2 separate regions of the Homo sapiens genome follow, and region 2 is linked to region 1. The links come from fine-mapping of genetic effects on gene expression. A gene starts in region 1. The other region holds a variant in brackets. All regions are shown on one strand. Distances are from middle to middle. Region 1 holds the start of SLC6A20 (solute carrier family 6 member 20). Region 2 overlaps SACM1L (SAC1 like phosphatidylinositide phosphatase).

Region 1 (5,379 bases):
CATAGGACCCAAATCCAGAATACATAAAGAACTACAAATCGGTAGGAAAAAATCAGACAACCCAATTAAAAACTGACAAAAAATTTGAACAGGCACTTCATGAAAAAAGATACCTAGATGGCCCAATTAGCCTATGGAATGGTATGCAGCCTTACTGGTCATGAGGGAAGTTAAAATAAGGCACAATGGGCCAGGCGTGGTGGCTCACGCCTGTAATCCCAGTACTTTGGGAGGCTGAGGCGGGCAGATCACAAGGTCAGGAGATTGAGACCATCCTGGCTAACACGGTGAAACCCCGTCTCTAATAAAAATACAAAAACAAAATTAGCTGGGCATAGTGATGGGTGCCTGTAGTCCCAGCTACTCGGGAGGCTGAGGCAGGAGAATGGCGCGAACCCCAGAGGTGGCACTTGCAGTGAGCCGAGATCGCGCCACTGTGCTCCAGCCTGGGCGACACAGTGAGACGCCGTCTCAAAAAAAAAAAAAAAGGCACAATGAACTATCACTATACACCTACAAGACTGGGCAGACCTTTAGAAATAGAATGACAAGTGTTAGGATGCAAAGCAAAAGCAACTGAAACCCAAAGGGAGTGTCAGCTTGTACTACCACACTCTGGAAAACAGTCTGACAATATCTGCTAAAGCCAAACACACCTATCCTAAGGCCAAGAAGTTCCCAGCAGTGAGTGCATTCATCTACGGAAGAACGTGCACTAGAATGTGCATTGCAGCCCTATTCATGACAGCCCCAAACTGGAGACAACACAGACATCTGTCAGTAGTAGACTGGAGCATACTCACACCACCGACAAGTATACTGCAGTGAGAGAGAATGACCCACAGCTACACAACACACTAGAACATGAATGAACCCCACAAACAACGGAAAGCAAATGAAGCCAGGCACAGAAAAAGTACATCCCATTTAATTCCATTTTCATCAAGGTCAAAACTAACCCATGGGGTTAGACACCAGGATGGTAGGTTCCTTTGGGGAGGAGGCAATGGGTAGGAAAAAACATTTATCTAGAATCTGAAGTTTAAAAAAATTAAAGTAGTTTCTCCTGCTGTGCTGCCTTTTTTTTCTGCTTTGCTTTTTCGAGGTAGGAAGTTCCAGGACAGGTAATATGTCTGAGGAAGCCTCCACCTCCCTCACCCTACTCACCCTTCTCCTCTGGGACCAGACAGGCAGGAACTCCAGGGAAAGCCCAACAAGGAGCTGTCCTAGAGCACTGATTTCATTTTGGCTTCAAGTAAGATTTTCACTAGCAACTCTGCTTTTCATCTCTTTTAAATTTTATTATTATTATTTAGCATTTTCTTATCTGTTACAATGTATTAGGCACTGTTCAAAGCGTGGCATTAGTATTAATATGTTACCCATTCATTCATTCAGCCTGCTGGAGACTTGGTAATGGCCTCTTTATTGAGAACTTACTCTGTGCCAGGTAGTAAGCTAAGTTCCCAATTAATCCTCACATGAGCTCTTCCTTGCCAGGCAGGAGAGAGGGGAAGATATCTGTTAGCATTACAGAGGAGTACACAGAGACTCAGAGAAGTCAAGTGCCTTGTCCAAGGTCACACAGCTAAGTCAGTAGCAGAGTTGGTATACAAACCCAGATTCCACATTACTGCAAAGCACCAAGCTCTGTCTTATCTAGTGACCACCCTCAAGCAAATCACGTTGTAAGACTGGCAGAAATACGAGGTTTCTTAGTTCCCTACCCTGGCCTAATGAATCAAAATTTCTGGCCCCTAGGCTGGCCTGAGCAGTAGAGTCCCCCACAGCAGTTCAAAACCTGATTCCGTCCCCGGACCCAGTAGGCACGCAGGGCCAAGCTGTTGGGTGGACGGAGGGGACGGGACTGCCGGGAAGGTCCCTCACTTCTTTCTGGCCCCTGGCAAATGTTATGTTCTCTCCTCTGAGAAGCCCTCCCTAACCATCCCTGGCCACCCCCCGCAACTGCTTACCCCTTTACTTTGCCTTAGGTGTCTTCCTCGCGTCTCTCAGTCTTATACGTGGGCTAGGTTGAACCATATGACATTGTCCTTTCTATAAATTAAAAAATGGTTGAAAATGGGGCATTTCATGCAGTCCAATTCAAGTGTTTCCCTCTACCAGAATGTCAGCTCCAAGACGGAGCTGGGAAGTGGTTCACAGCCGTGTCCCCAGACAACGCCTGGCACACAGTAGGCGCTCGATAAATGACAGGTGAGTGGCCGAGGGAAGGCGCCCACTTCGAGGAGTTCCGCAGCCTGAAGAAAGGCCCCGCCGAGCCGGAGGACCCCAGGGGACTCCGCCCTGTCCTCTGCAATCTCGGGTGCCTTCCCGGCCGCGACGATCGGGCGGGGTGGGGCTCGCCGTCATCCATTTACCAGCCTCGCCTCTCGGACGGGCGCGCCGTTAATGAGATTAGCAATTTAAAAACCAGCTAGCTGCGTCGGCGGCGGAGGCGCGGGGCCACCCCCAAGCCGAGCCGGGGTGGGACGGCGCGCCTGGCGACCGCGCACTGAGACTGCCGTGCCGGACCCCCGAGCCGGAGCCGAGCGCGCCGAGGCCGGGGCCATGGAGAAAGCGCGGCCGCTGTGGGCCAACTCGCTACAGTTCGTGTTCGCCTGCATCTCGTACGCCGTGGGCCTGGGCAACGTGTGGCGATTCCCGTACCTGTGCCAGATGTACGGCGGAGGTGAGTGCCCACCGCGCCCCGGCCCCAGCCCAACTCTGTGCGCGTCCCCGCCGTGTGTGCGAGCCGGGGTTAGACCCAAGTTACAGAACGGCACACTGAGGCCGGGAAAGCGAGCGTGATTTGTCCGAAGTTACAGACCCGGGAGTGTTCCCAGGACACCTCGTTCCGGAGCCGGAGCTCTCTCCCAAGCCGCCCTCCCAAGCCCTCGGGAACCCCTCGCCCCATCCCGGGGGCGGCCAAGCCCCCAACCCTCACCCTTGTTGGCCAGGCTGCGGCTCTGAGAGCGCAGGGGACGCGGTCTCCTTCTTCGAGAGAAGTGTCAATGGTCTGACGTCTTAGTGAGTAAACCTTACGTTTAGGTGTAAAAAGTGAGTAGGAAATTGTCTTATTCAACAGAAACTCGTTATACAACTTTCAGATCCGAAACTTAAATCAACGGTTTGAAACTCAGGTTAAGAGAATCTTGAGCCATTTCTTTAAATTTTTTATAAGGAGATTGGTTTGAGTTTGGAACGACAGAAAGCAGGAAATGCAAATCATTCTGTTTTGTTTTGTTTTTCTTAAATAAATGTTTCCTCCGAAGCATCATGCACGCTCCGGGGACAGCCAGCCAGCCACGCGCTCTTACCGCACTCCCCTAGCGTTGCGGAAAGCTGGGAACACCTTCTACACATGTCTATAACCTCGTGAAGCCCAAGTACCTTTTTGGAAGGCAATGTGGCAAGAGGGATTTAAGTCTCAGCATCTAAAACACTTTTTTTCTCGGTTGTCTCGTTTCTAGAATTGTATCTAAAGGAAATTGTCAGAGTTCTGACAGAGGTAGAAGGATGGTCACCATCATTTAATAAGAGCAAAACATTGGCAACTTCCTAAGCCCTCAAATAAAGGGGATTGGTTCAGTAAATTATAGAGCATCCATTCAAGGTTGCTCTTCGCAGCCTTTAAGGCGGCATTTTCAAAAAAAAAATTGTATTTTCTCGTATCCTGTATTAAGTGGAGGGAGGAGAAATCAGATTCAAAGCTATATAAAATGGATTTGACATTTTAAAACAATTACTTAAAAATATGCAGAGAAAAGAATGGGGAAAAGACATCAAATTGTTAACAAAATTTCTGGGTGATTTTTGTTTACCTTGTCGTGTGTGTGTGTTTTTGTGTGTGTATGTGTGTGTTTGTGTATTAGGACTTCTATAATTAGCATGTTTTTTTCACCATAAAAGATCATGGAAGATGTTAGACCAAAGTATTTACGAAAATGAACCCATTTGAGAAGACCAAGAGCTAAACACTGCTCCCTCCTCCCCTTACCCCAAATCAACAAAAGGTTAATTCATAGAGTTTTTAAAACAGTGCATTCTTAATTTCCTGATTCCTTTTTAAAATTTGAAGTGCATAAATACACCATAATGATGTGAAGGGCATATGTTGCCATATGCTCTAACAGCATTACCATGTGCTCTAACAGCTCTATAACTGACTCTTAAAAAGAATTATTTGTCAGAATGAGATTTCCACATCATTCTGTGCTCAGTAGACCTACCCATGATACCTTTATCCTGGGTACATGTTTCCCAGTCATCAGTCCAGGTGAGCCTCACTGTCACATGACTACTTAATTCCTTGTTTATAATACCACCATCACCTGAATAGTCTGCAGAGGGATGCATGTGGGGCTGATAGTTCTGGAGTTGAATATGTATCAAGGGGTTGCTAGGGAAACCTCAAGACCCTCAGGTTCCAAGAAAAAGAAACAAGAAGTAATCCTGTGCCTGGTGCAGAGGATGCTTCGGCTGGATGGGTGGATAGATAGATGAGTGGAAGCCGGACGGAGCATGGATTGGTGGCTGGGTGTATGCATGGATTAGTGGGTGCACAGACAAAAGGAGGGTGTGGGTCTGGTGGATGGCACCCTGTCAGCCACATGTCTACAGAATAAAGACCGAACAGTCCACTTGGCACCGTAGGCACTTGACCACCTAACTTGACCACTTGTCCAATATTTCCACCTCATTTCCTGCCACACAGCTTCAAACCTCCTCCTGCCTTCCAAACACTTCCATGAGCACCTCCTTCTGTGCCTCAACCCTTCACACAAGATATTTCCTCCACCTGAGAGGCTGTTGTTGCTGGGAGAACTCCCACCATTCCCTCCAGGTGGGACCAAATATTGCTTTCTCTCCGTTGTGCTCTCTGACTCTCCTCACTACTTCACAGGCCACATAAGCACTTGGTCAGAAGAACTGCACATTGTTCTTCAGTTTCTCTGTCTCCGCCCGGCCCAACCTCTGTGATGTGATGGAGTCACAGGAGCCATCCAATAAATATTTGTTGAGTGAATGAGCAAGGTATTAGGAAAAGCCACAGAATAAATGACGCTAGAGGATGCTAGAGGCTTTCCCAAGCCTTTCACTGCACAGTAAAGTCACCTTTAAGAAGTGATTTGTGTTGCCCCAAACCCAGGCAGTTTACAACCCATCCCTTACCGGAAGGTAAAAATCAGCCACATTATGAAAGGCTGCAGAGGGGTGTATAACTTCCTTGTAAGCAGAGCTGCAAATACCCCCAGCAAACAAAGAATTTGTTTATAAACCACAGAGCCAGGCTGTGCCAAAATACTTCCCAGAATAAGACGGATTAGGGATCTGTGCCCCTCTCCATGGGACTCTGCCCGTGACTGGAGAGGCTTGTTT
Region 2 (5,379 bases), 100 kb after region 1:
AAAACTGTATTACAGGCCAGGCGCAGAGGCTCATGCAAAATCCCAGCACTTTGGGAGGCCGAGGCGGGTGGATCACAAGGTCAGGAGATCGAGACCATCCTGGCCAACATGGTGAAACCCGTCTCTACTAAAATACAAACAAAAAAATTAGCTGGGTGCGGTGGCACGTGCCTGTAGTCCCAGCTACTCGGGAGGCTGAGACAGGGGAATCGCTTGCTTGAACCCAGGAGGTGGAGGTTGCAGTGAGCTGAGATCACGCCACTGCACTCTAGGCTGGTGACAGAGCAAGACTCCGTGAAGTTAGGAGTTCAGTCAAGACCAGCCTGGCCAACATGGTGAAACCCTATCTCTACTAAAAATACAAAAATTAGCCAGGCATGGTGGCAGGCGCCTGTAATCCCAGCTACTCAGGAGGCTGAGGCAGGAGAATCGCTTGAACCTGGGAGGCGGAGGTTGCAGTGAGCAGAGATTGCGCCATCGCACTCCAGCCTGGGGCACAAGAGCGAGACTTTGTCTCAAAAAAAAAAGTATTATAACAAAGTATACAAATAAGAGTAATTATGGATCAAGGTAGAGATGTCTCGCTCAAAAGTCCTGAGGCCTTTGCTTGATCTTCTCTCTCTGAGAGATGCTGTTGGAATCTAAATTGCTGATGCTGCCATCAGGCTATTCTGATAATGTCACTGAAAGTGGTATCTCTAGGCTTAAGAATTGGAGCAATGAAAATGTGAACAGTGACTGCCAGGGAATCAACATTTCTAGGGATGCTCATTAGAAGTAATGACTCACAATTCTGTTAACCATAACAGCAGGTATCATCCTAACTCACGGCACCTACATATATGCCCTTACTGTTCTCTTCCTCTCATTTCCCACCACTTTTGTATTGGTCTTAATACTGATCTGAAGCATAATTGTTTTATGTAATAAATTTTATTCTATGTTTTATGCTTCCTGGGCTTCATTTCAAAAGCCAGTGAAATTAACTTTAACTCTCTAGCATTTAAACCGTCAAAAACAATTAAGTAAACATTCAGTGGTATAATTTTTCCTGGTGTGTATTGTTTTATTGCTATTTTTGTGTTTAAATCTTTACCAAACAAGCTATCATATTACTTATTTTATGAAATGGATTTCGGAAGACAAGATTCGATCCAAGAAGATTATTTGGTCATTATCTATACTGTTGATAACAGATCTCTAAGGTTCAAAGTAATACTGTATACTAAAAAGGGTTCTGGTCCTATATAAACTATCTGGTGAGGTGATTAGCCTCCAATTCACTATTAACTCTAACTGAACAAGAATCCTACCAAATATCTGTCAAGACAAGGGGATCCCATACCTACCCAGAGTTCTGGTTCCCATTAATAAGACACATACTATGGAAGATATATCAAAATAGCATAATACTTGTATAATAATTGCTCCTATTTTGACTACCTTCATTCAGTTCGTCATTTTGCTTTTAAGGATTACTGTCCAAGCATGGCATAAAAAAGAAAAAGTGGTTGGATACAGTGCTCATGCCTGTAATCCTAGCACTTTGGGAGGCTGAGGCAGGAGGACTGCTTGAGCCCAGGAGTTTGAGACCAGCCTGGGCAACATGGCAAAACCCCGTTTCTACAAAAAATGCAAAAATTAGCCAGGTGTGGTGGTATGCACCTGTGGCCTCAGCTATTCAGGAGGCTGAGGTCGGAGGATCACTTCAACCTGGGAGGCAGAGGCTGCTCTGAGCCAAGATCGCACCACTACACTCCAGCCTGGGCAACAGAGCAAGAGCCTGTCTTAAAAAAAAAAAAAAAAAAAAAAAAAGGAAAAGAAAAGAAAAACAAAGCAGGAGGATCTTGAGGCCAGGAGTTTGAGACCAGCCTGGTCAACACAGCGAGATCTCATCTCTACAAAAAATGTTGAAATAAAAAAAAAAGAAAGAATCAACACTTAGGTTGCTTCCTCCTTTTTGACTGTTGTGAATAATGCTGCTATGAACAGGGGTATACAAATCCCTCTTTGAGACCTTACTTTTAATTATTTTGAGTATCCCAGAAGTGGAACTGGGACTAAAAGCTAAATGCAACAAAGGCAGTTCTGGTATTACACTTAATACAAATGCATTTAATCTTATAGTCACCTGGGATTCAACAGCTCTTAAGAGTGTTTTTTAAAAAATTAGTCTTGTTAAATTTTAAGAAAAGCAATATCTTTAATTATAATATTAACATCAAATATTTTTATTTTCTTTCAGTGTTGGCATTGCGATTTTCTAGTGTCTGAAAACATTTATCTCTCATGTAACATTCACGTCTTATTTCAGACAACTGATCTCTTTAAAATCCTGTCAAATCAATGAGTAAAACTGGCCCACTACAAAAACATTACTACTTACCAACCTCATACCCATTAAAATGGCTATTATCTAGAAGGAAAAAAAAAACAAACCCAGGATAGAAAATAACGAGTGTTGGCTAGGATGCGGAGACACTGGAATCCTGGTGCTTTGTGGGTGGGAATGTAAAACGGTGCAGCCACTATGGGAAAACAGTATGGTGGCCCATTAAAAATTAAAAATAGAATTCCCATATGACCCAACAATTCCACTTCCGGGTATATACTCAAAATAACTGAAAGTAGGGTTTCAAAAAGGTATTTGTATACTCACATTCATACTGGCATTACTCACAATAGCCAAAAAGGTGGAAGCCACCTATGTGTCTATTAACAAATGAACAAACGAAATGTGGTACATACATATAATGGAATATTATTCAGCCTTAGAAAGGAAATTCTGGGCCAGGCACAGTGGCTCAGGCCTGGAATCCCAACACTCAGGGAGGACGAGGCAGGCGGATCACGAGGTCAGGAG[A/G]TGGAGACCATCCTGGCAAATGCAGTGAAACCTTGTCTCTACTAAAAATACAAAACAGTAGCTGGGCGTGGTGGCAGGCACCTGAAATCCCAGCTACTTAGGAGGCTAAGGCAGGAGAATTGCTTGAACCCAGGAGGCAGAGGTTGCAGTGGGCCGAGATCGCACCACTGTACTCCAGCATAGGCAACAGAGCGAGACTCCATCTCAAAAAAAAAAAAAAAAAAGGAAATTCTGACACATGCTACACAATGGATGAACCTTAAGGACATTATGCTAAGTGAAATAAACCAGTCATAAAAGGACAAATACTGCCACTTCATGAGGCATCTAGAGAAGTCAAATTTATAGAGACAGAAAGTAGAACGGTGGTTGCCAGGGGCTGGGAGGATACAGAAATGGGGAGTTGTTTAATGGGTACAGAGTTTATTTTTGCAAGATGAAAACGGTTCTGGTGATGGATGGTGATAACGGTTGTACAACATGAATGTGCTTATTGCCCCTGAACTGTATACTTAAAAATGGTTGAGATGGTAAATTTAATGTTTTATTTTACCACAATTTTTAAAAATAATGAAACCACTATTTTGCATAGGAGCCACAGTGATATGTCATAAAACTGTAGCAAGAACATATTCCCTCAAAAATCTTACGTAAAGAATTTGGCTGGGTGCAGTGGCTCATGCCTGTAATCCCAACACTTTGGGAGGCCGAGGCAGGTGGATCACTTGAGGTCAGGAGATCAAGACCAGCCTGGCCAACATGGTGAAACTCTGTCTCTACTAACAATACAAAAATTAGCCGGGCCTGGTGGTGCATGCCTGTAGTCCCAGCTACAAGGGAGGCTGAGGCACAAGAATCACTTGAACCTGGGAGGTGGTGGTTGTGGTGAGCCGAGACTGCGCCACTGCACTCCAGCCTGGGCAACAGAGTGAGACCCCATCTCAAAAAAAAAAAAGAATTAAATCAAGGTCTTAATGATCAAATTTAATACATCTCTGGTTGAAAAGACAGAGGCACAACACTTTACTAGGTTTGGTGAGCAAAAAGAAAACAACTTAGTAAAGAAGGATCCCCTGCACATACTACACTCATAGGCAGAAGGTGCTCCTACCTCCCCCATTCATCCTCCCTTTGGGTATCTCCTCACTGAGCCCTCCCTGGTTGCCTCTCCTATAGCTCAAGTTCATCACAGACTCCCCAGGGGCACAACCCAATTCCAAACCAGTTGGTGTTTCTAGAAAGACTCATTCTAATGCTATCCTCTTTCTCAAAACTCTGTGTTCCCACCTATATCCTATTCCCTGAATGCCCTAAAACCCATTCTCTCAACCAGACTTCTTCACAGGACTAGGTCCAAATTCCACCTAATCTGAAGCTCTAATCCACAGCACAATCTACCAGAGCCCCATATCTTCCAAAGAATTCTCTTCTACCAGCATGTTCTGGTCCTAACTCAGCTATGTATGCCCAGCCCTAAAATATTTCAGAGTGCATAAAAACTACCAGGATAGCTAGTTAAACTTGCAGATTTCCACCGCTCATCCCCAGAGATTTTCACTCAGTAGGCCTAATGTGGGGCCCTGGAATACGCACTTAAAACAAGCATACCAAGTCATTTGATGTAGCCTAGCACTAACCTAGGCTAGCCACGTGAGCCTAGGTAAGCCTGAACTAGCCTGAACTCCCAGCCAACTAATGCTTTGGATACAAACCCCATATTGTCTGTGCTAAAACTCATGAGAATAATCTGAGCTGCCCTACACCCTTCCCTCCACCGGGAGACTTCTGTGAATAATATGAATGTTCATTATATTGAACAGATTATATGTGTCTGTATCACAAGGTAGCTTAGGTTACATCTGTTTTCAAGGTTGGATCATATCTGCCCTGACTGATGACCTCACAGTTATGAGACTCTTTTAAAAATGGCAATTTCCTGAGGAAACAGTACTCTTCAGAGGCATGCTGCAGCCTGATGCAGTAACTAAAGGATTCCCTGCCTTACACCTAGTTTCAACTGACCTTTTAAAAGAAAAAGAAAAAAAAAGAAGAAAAAATGCTTTAAATGTATCCAATAATTTTGCACCTCTAACTTTCCACTGAACCTTTTAGAAAGTTATTATGAGCTTGAGGTCTGAGGGGCCTAAGAAGTGCCCAAACCACATTTGATGTCATTTCCCTGCAAAGGAAATGTGACACCTACGCCGAACTGCCAAGGTATTTTAGCTTATATACAGGGATAGATAAGCTTCTTAAAAATTACATTTCCAGTCTAATTATTTTGCAATTTCAAATTTATCACTGTCTGACATTATCCATGCCTATACAAATGGCTTAAAAAGAAAAATGGAGCCTAACAGGATATTTAGAACTGCCTGGAAGTTTAAAAAGTATGAATTTTAAATTCTGAGCAAATCAATATTCTGTTTTCCACATTAAACATATGGAAATTAATATGGACATGTCAACTATATTTGGTTGTAAGTGACTCATTTCAATACCTGGCATGTCTGAGG

What was found.
Region 2: its variant is fine-mapped to the expression of SLC6A20 in transverse colon (GTEx, PIP 0.96).

Annotation. Positions count from the first base shown.
Region 1 is chr3:45,793,609-45,798,987 of GRCh38, reverse strand. SLC6A20 (solute carrier family 6 member 20) reads left to right here and starts at 2,452. Exons shown (of 11, transcript NM_020208.4): 1 at 2,452-2,689. The coding sequence starts at 2,569. LOC107986082 (a long non-coding RNA gene) reads right to left here and starts at 3,089. Exons shown (of 3, transcript XR_001740680.2): 1 at 2,945-3,089; 2 at 1,974-2,055.
Region 2 is chr3:45,693,706-45,699,084 of GRCh38, reverse strand. All of the region lies in intron 1 of SACM1L (SAC1 like phosphatidylinositide phosphatase), which reads right to left. Among named protein-coding and RNA genes, the nearest start is that of SACM1L, 7.0 kb to the right of the region's middle. RefSeq lists an enhancer at 4,801-4,940. The variant A/G (reference allele first, on the strand shown) is at 2,864.